2 separate regions of the Homo sapiens genome follow, and region 1 is linked to region 2. The links come from fine-mapping of genetic effects on gene expression. A gene starts in region 2. The other region holds a variant in brackets. All regions are shown on one strand. Distances are from middle to middle.

Region 1 (2,786 bases), 43 kb before region 2:
ATGCATCTGTAGTCCCAGCTGCTTGAAAGGCTGAGGCCACAGGATCCCTTAAGCCCAGGAGTTCGAGGTTACAATGAGCTATGATGGCACCACCGCATTCCAGCCTGTGTGACATAGTGAGACCCTGTCTCCAAAAAAAATAAAAATAAAAATAAAAGACCATGTTCTAGCCGGGCGCAGTGTCTCGCGCCTGTAATCCCAGCACTTTGGGAGGCCGAGGCAGGTGGATCACCTGAGGTCAGGAGTTCGAGACCAGCCTAACCAACATGGAGAGACCCCATCTCTACTAAAAATGCAAAGTTAGCCGGGCGTGGGGGCGCATGACTGTGGTCCCAGCTACTCAGGAGGCTGAGGCAGGAGAATCGCTTGAACCCAGGAGGCGGAGGTTGCGGTGAGGCGAGATTGCACCATTACACTCCAGCCTGGGCAACAAAAGCGAAACTCCGTGCCCCTCCCCGCAAAAAGACCATGTTCTTAGCCACCCTGCCACGAAGCCAATGAGTCACTTAAAGCAAACGAGGGATTCCATAATGGTCAGCATTCAGTGATGTGCTGGAAGCAGGCACAGTGGCGAGTGCCTTGTCCCATCTACTTGAGAGACTGAGGCAGGAGGATCACTTAAGCCCAGTTGTTCAAAGCTGTAGTGCCCTGTGATGGCACCTGTGAATAGCCACCGTACACCATCCTGGCAACATATCAAGCCCATGATCAGAGTATTTACACCATGGAGATAGGCAAATGCTACAAATCAGGGTTCCCCTCTCCCAACCTGGCAAGGTAGTTGTTAAACCCTTACCAGGATATCACTGGTCAGCATATTTTCCCTAAAATTATAAAACGGTACAAAGGTATCTGCATAGGAGGATGAGCATGTCTGCCTGAGTGTGGCTACACTCAGCATAGCCATTGAGGTCCATTTCGTGCATCTAAGGGACTAGGCATAGCCAGGCATGGTGGCTAACGCCTGTAATCCCGCACTTTGGGAAGCCAAGGCAGGTGGATCACCTGAGGTTAGGAGTTCAAGACCAGCCTGGCCAATGTGGTAAAACCTTGTCTCTACTAAAAAGCCAAAATTAGCCGGCCATGGTTGCGAGCGCCTGTAGTCCCAGCTACTTGGGAGGTTGAGGCAGGAGAATCTCTTGAACCCAGGAGGCAGAGGTTGCAGTAAGCTGAGATCACGCCACTGCACTCCAGCCTGGGCAACAGGAGCGAAACTCGGTTTCAAAAAAAAAAAAAGTCCAGGCGCAGTGGCTCATGCTTGTAATCCCAGCACTCTGGGAGGCCGAGGCGGGCGGATCACCTGAGATCAGGAGTTCAAGACCAGCCTGACCACCATGGAGAAACCCCGTCTCTAATAAAAATACAAAAACTTGGCCAGGCTTGGTGGCACATGCCTGTAATCCCAGCTACTCCGGAGGCTGAGGTAGGAGAATAGCTTGAACCCAGGAGGCAGAAGTTGCAGTGAGC[T/C]GAGATCGCACCATTGCACTCCAGCCCAGGCAACAACAGCGAAACTCCATCACAAAAAAAAAAAAAAAAAAAAGGGACTAGGCATGTGTGTATGCATTTGAAGGCATGAATGATTAAATCTAAGGTCTTCACTGTGAGCGAGCGGATCAGTGTGTATACCTTAGGGCACTGTATAATGAGTCAAAGAGTAAGGGAGGAAGCAGGTATATCTAGATGGTGTCAGTGAGTACCTATGGGACCAAGTTTTGTGTTTGGAAGCTATGTAGTTAAGACCTCATATGATGGCTGGGGGTGGTGGCTCATGCATGGTATCTCAGCACTTTGGGAGGCCAAGGTGGGTGGATCACTTGAGGTTGGGAGTTTGAAACCAGCCTGGCCAACGTGGCGAAACCCTGTCTTTACTAAAAATACACAAATTAGCCAGGTGTGATGATGTGCGCCTGTAGTCCCAGCTACCCGGGAGGCTAAGGCAGGAGAATTGCTTGAACCCGGGAGGCAGAGGTTGCAGTGAGCTGAGATCATGCCATTGCACTCCAGCCTGGGCAACAGAGGAAGACTCTGTCTCAAAAAAAAAAACAAAAAACAAAACAAAACAAAAGGCCGGGCGCAGAGGCTCACGCCTGTAATCCTAGCGCTTTGGGAGGCCGAGGCGGGCAGATTGCCTGAGCTCAGGAGTTCCAGACCAGCCTGGGTAACATGGTAAAACCTCGTCTTTACTAAAGCACAAAATATTAGCTGGGCATGGCAGTGTGCACGGTAGTCCCAGCTACGTAGGAGGCTGAGACAGAATTGCTTGAACCCAGGAGGTGGAAGTTGCAGTGAGCCGAGATTGCGCCACTGCACTCTAGCCTGGGCAACAGAGCGAGATTCCGTCTCCAAAAAAACAAAAAAAAAATTAGATTTGGCAGCTGGGCAAGATGGCTGACGCCTGTAATCCCAGCAGTTTGGGAGGCCAAGGCGGGTGGATCACTTGAGGTTAGGAGTTCAAGACCAGCCTGGCCAACAGGGGTGAAACCCTGTCCCTACTAAAACTACAGAAATTAGTCGGGCATGGTGGCAGCTACTCGGAAGGCTGATGCAGGAGAATCGCTTAAACCCAGGAGGCAGAGATTGTAGTGAGCTGAGATTGTGCTACTGCACTCCAGCCTGGGCAACAAAGGGAAACTCCATCTAAAAAAAAAAAAAAAAAAAAAAAAGCCAGACGCGGTGGCTTATACCTGTAATCCCAGCACTTTGGGAGGCCAAGGTAGGCGGATCACCAGAGATCGGGAGTTCGAGACTAGCCTGACCAACATGGAGAAGCCCCATCTCTACTAAAA
Region 2 (2,500 bases):
CGTGGAACATGGGGAATAAGAACTAAACGAAGATGCTTGTGATGGGGGCATGGGGAGAAGTCAAACAGGTTTCAGGATTAATAGCTAAAGAGCACTGCCCTTTTCTTATGCGATAGGTACTATTCTATGTGCTTCTGGAAAACATCATCTACTAAATGATAGGATCTAAGATCAGTCACCCAAGAAATAAGCACAGAAAGGACTTAGGCCTTTGTTCCTATATTTGATGAGTATATTTGCTTCATAGAAGTAAAACAGACGACCCGGGGAGGGTGGGGGGTGGGGGGAGGGAAATTACAAGAAAGAAGCTCCTGAGTGGGATATTACAATCCAGAGTGGCACTGGGGAATTGGGGGGAGGTAGCCTGTGTTTCTGGAAGAGGCGTAAGAGTGGACAGCTTTGGGACACTGGAAAAGGGGTTCAAGGAAAGATTGGGGCGAGGGAAGCGATCTAGACCTGGGAAAAGACTGTGTGGAGGGAATCTGAGAAAAACGGAGGATAAAAAGAAAGGTTGGCTCGAGTCAGAGGCATGGCAAAGGAAGCTGAGTTCGTCTGTGTTAGGAACGGGGCTCCAGAGGAGAAGAGAGGGGACCGATGGGTGGGGCCTGCGGGCAGCATCTAGCAAGGTTGGGGTGGGGAAGGGGAAATAGGGGCGGCGCCGAAGGCGGGAGGGGGCGTTACTGAAGCGCTAAAGGGTCGGGTTTCCACCCGGAGGTGGGAGGTGTGGGGGAGGGTGGCCGGAATGGAGACGGAGGGCTCACGGGAGGTTGTCGAGGGGCGGGGTCGGATCTGGGCACACGAGGCGGGGGTTGGTGCTTGCGGGTCTGAGGGTGGGGGGAGAAGGGAGTTGGATCCCGACGCCCGGAGCTGGCAAGATTTGGGCCGTGGAGGTGGGCCGCCGCGAGGGCAGCGCAGTGGGTGGGGGGTGAGTTGTAGTGGGAGAGGGTGGGGGGCGGGGAAGGTCGAGCCCCGGAGCTCGGGGCTGGGGGAGGAAAAACCCCGGCTCACCGCTTGATCCGGAGTAGACACTGCGGCGCGGTGCGCTCGCCGTCCCAGTCGGAGCTGAGCGTGGGGTCCCAGTGGCTAAGCAGCGCGGCCCCGTGGGCAGCGGCTGAGGGCGGGAGCCCGGGCAGCGGAGCCAGGCCGCTCCCCGGGCCCCCGGCCCCGCCCGCTGCCGCCGCCGCCGCCCACACATCCGGCAGGAAAGGCGGCCCGAACCCGCCGCCGCTGCCGCTAACGCCAACAACACCAGCAACGCTGCTCGCCCCGGGGCCCGCCGCCCCGGCGCCCGCCGTTGCCGCCTCCTCAGTCGGACTCTCCGCCATCGCTGCTTCGCTTCCGGGACTACTCGGCAGCACGTCCGCCGACCAGAGCGGCCGCTGCTCCCGCCCGCTCCCGCACCACCGAGAACCGGGCCAGAGTGTCCCCACCCCCTCCGCTTCCACAGCCCAGACGGTGCTGGCTCCGCCCACCCCCGCCCCAACCAGCGAGAGGCGCTCTGCAAGAGCGTCCACCTACGGTCCTCCAGGACGGGAGGGGTGGGAACTAGCAGGCCGTGATGGTTCTGGGCTCGTGTGGGTCCTGCGCTGTGCGGAAGTAGCGGAGAGCCCAATTCAAGTGTTGAAAGGGGAGAAGAGAGGAGGGAGTGGGGGAGGAAGGGCCATATCATTCCCGTTAATGGCGGCGACCCTCAGACGTCTGCATGGTTAGGATTGGGGATCCAGCATCCTCATGGGAAGCTCAGTAGAGAAGTTGACTCGCTTTGGGCCCCTTCTCTCGGAAAGGCTCTGCGATTGATCCCTCCTGCACACTTGTGCACCTAGGGCAGGGTACCATTGCCCTTGCCTGCAACAGGACCAAGAGAGAACTCAACTTGGAATGAAAAGCTACCTCTTTTAGAGTTTATTCAACATATATTTATGAAGGGCCTACTAAATGCCAGTCACTGTTGCTAGTTGTTGCCATGGGGATAATGAAACAGAACTAGAGAAGCTTGGTGAAAGGAAGAAACATCAGGCCTCCTGACTCCAAGCTTAGTACTTTTTCTTCCCACAAATCTTGGAATATACAGGAATCGAGGTACTGTGAGTGTAAACCCTGAGGATTCTTTGGGTCTTTCCTAAAATGTTTAAAGTGAAAAATAATCTGCCAGGCTCGGTGGCTCACGCCTGTAATCCCAGCACTTTGGGAGGCCGAGGTGGGCGAATCACGAGGTTAGGAGTTCGAGACCAGCCTAACATGGTGAAACCCCGCCTCTATTAAAAATACAAAAATTAGCCGGGCGTGGTGGCGTGCACCTGTAGTCCCAGCTACTCAGGAGGCTTAGGCAGGTGGATCACTTGAACCCGGGAGGCGGAGTTTGCAGTGAGTTGAGATCACGCCACTGCACTCCAGCCTGGGCGACAGAGCCAGACTCCGTCTCAAAAAAAAAAAAAAAAATTCCTATGGACTAAGAATGACAGGGGCCTTCCTAAAAAACTGTTTTTCCTTGCCGGGCGCG

What was found. PIP is the estimated chance that this variant, and not a neighbour inherited with it, causes the effect.
Region 1: its variant is the best candidate, but not a certain one, in a credible set for the expression of UBE2Z in lung (TOPMed, PIP 0.69).

The regions. Positions count from the first base shown.
Region 1 is chr17:48,949,792-48,952,577 of GRCh38, reverse strand. No RefSeq gene overlaps it. Among named protein-coding and RNA genes, the nearest start is that of SNF8, 6.3 kb to the right of the region's middle. The variant T/C (reference allele first, on the strand shown) is at 1,468.
Region 2 is chr17:48,907,329-48,909,828 of GRCh38, reverse strand. UBE2Z (ubiquitin conjugating enzyme E2 Z) reads right to left here and starts at 1,422. Exons shown (of 7, transcript NM_023079.5): 1 at 1,009-1,422. The coding sequence starts at 1,325. LOC105371814 (a long non-coding RNA gene) reads left to right here and starts at 846. Exons shown (of 4, transcript NR_135674.1): 1 at 846-890. RefSeq lists silencers at 634-763, 1,034-1,283.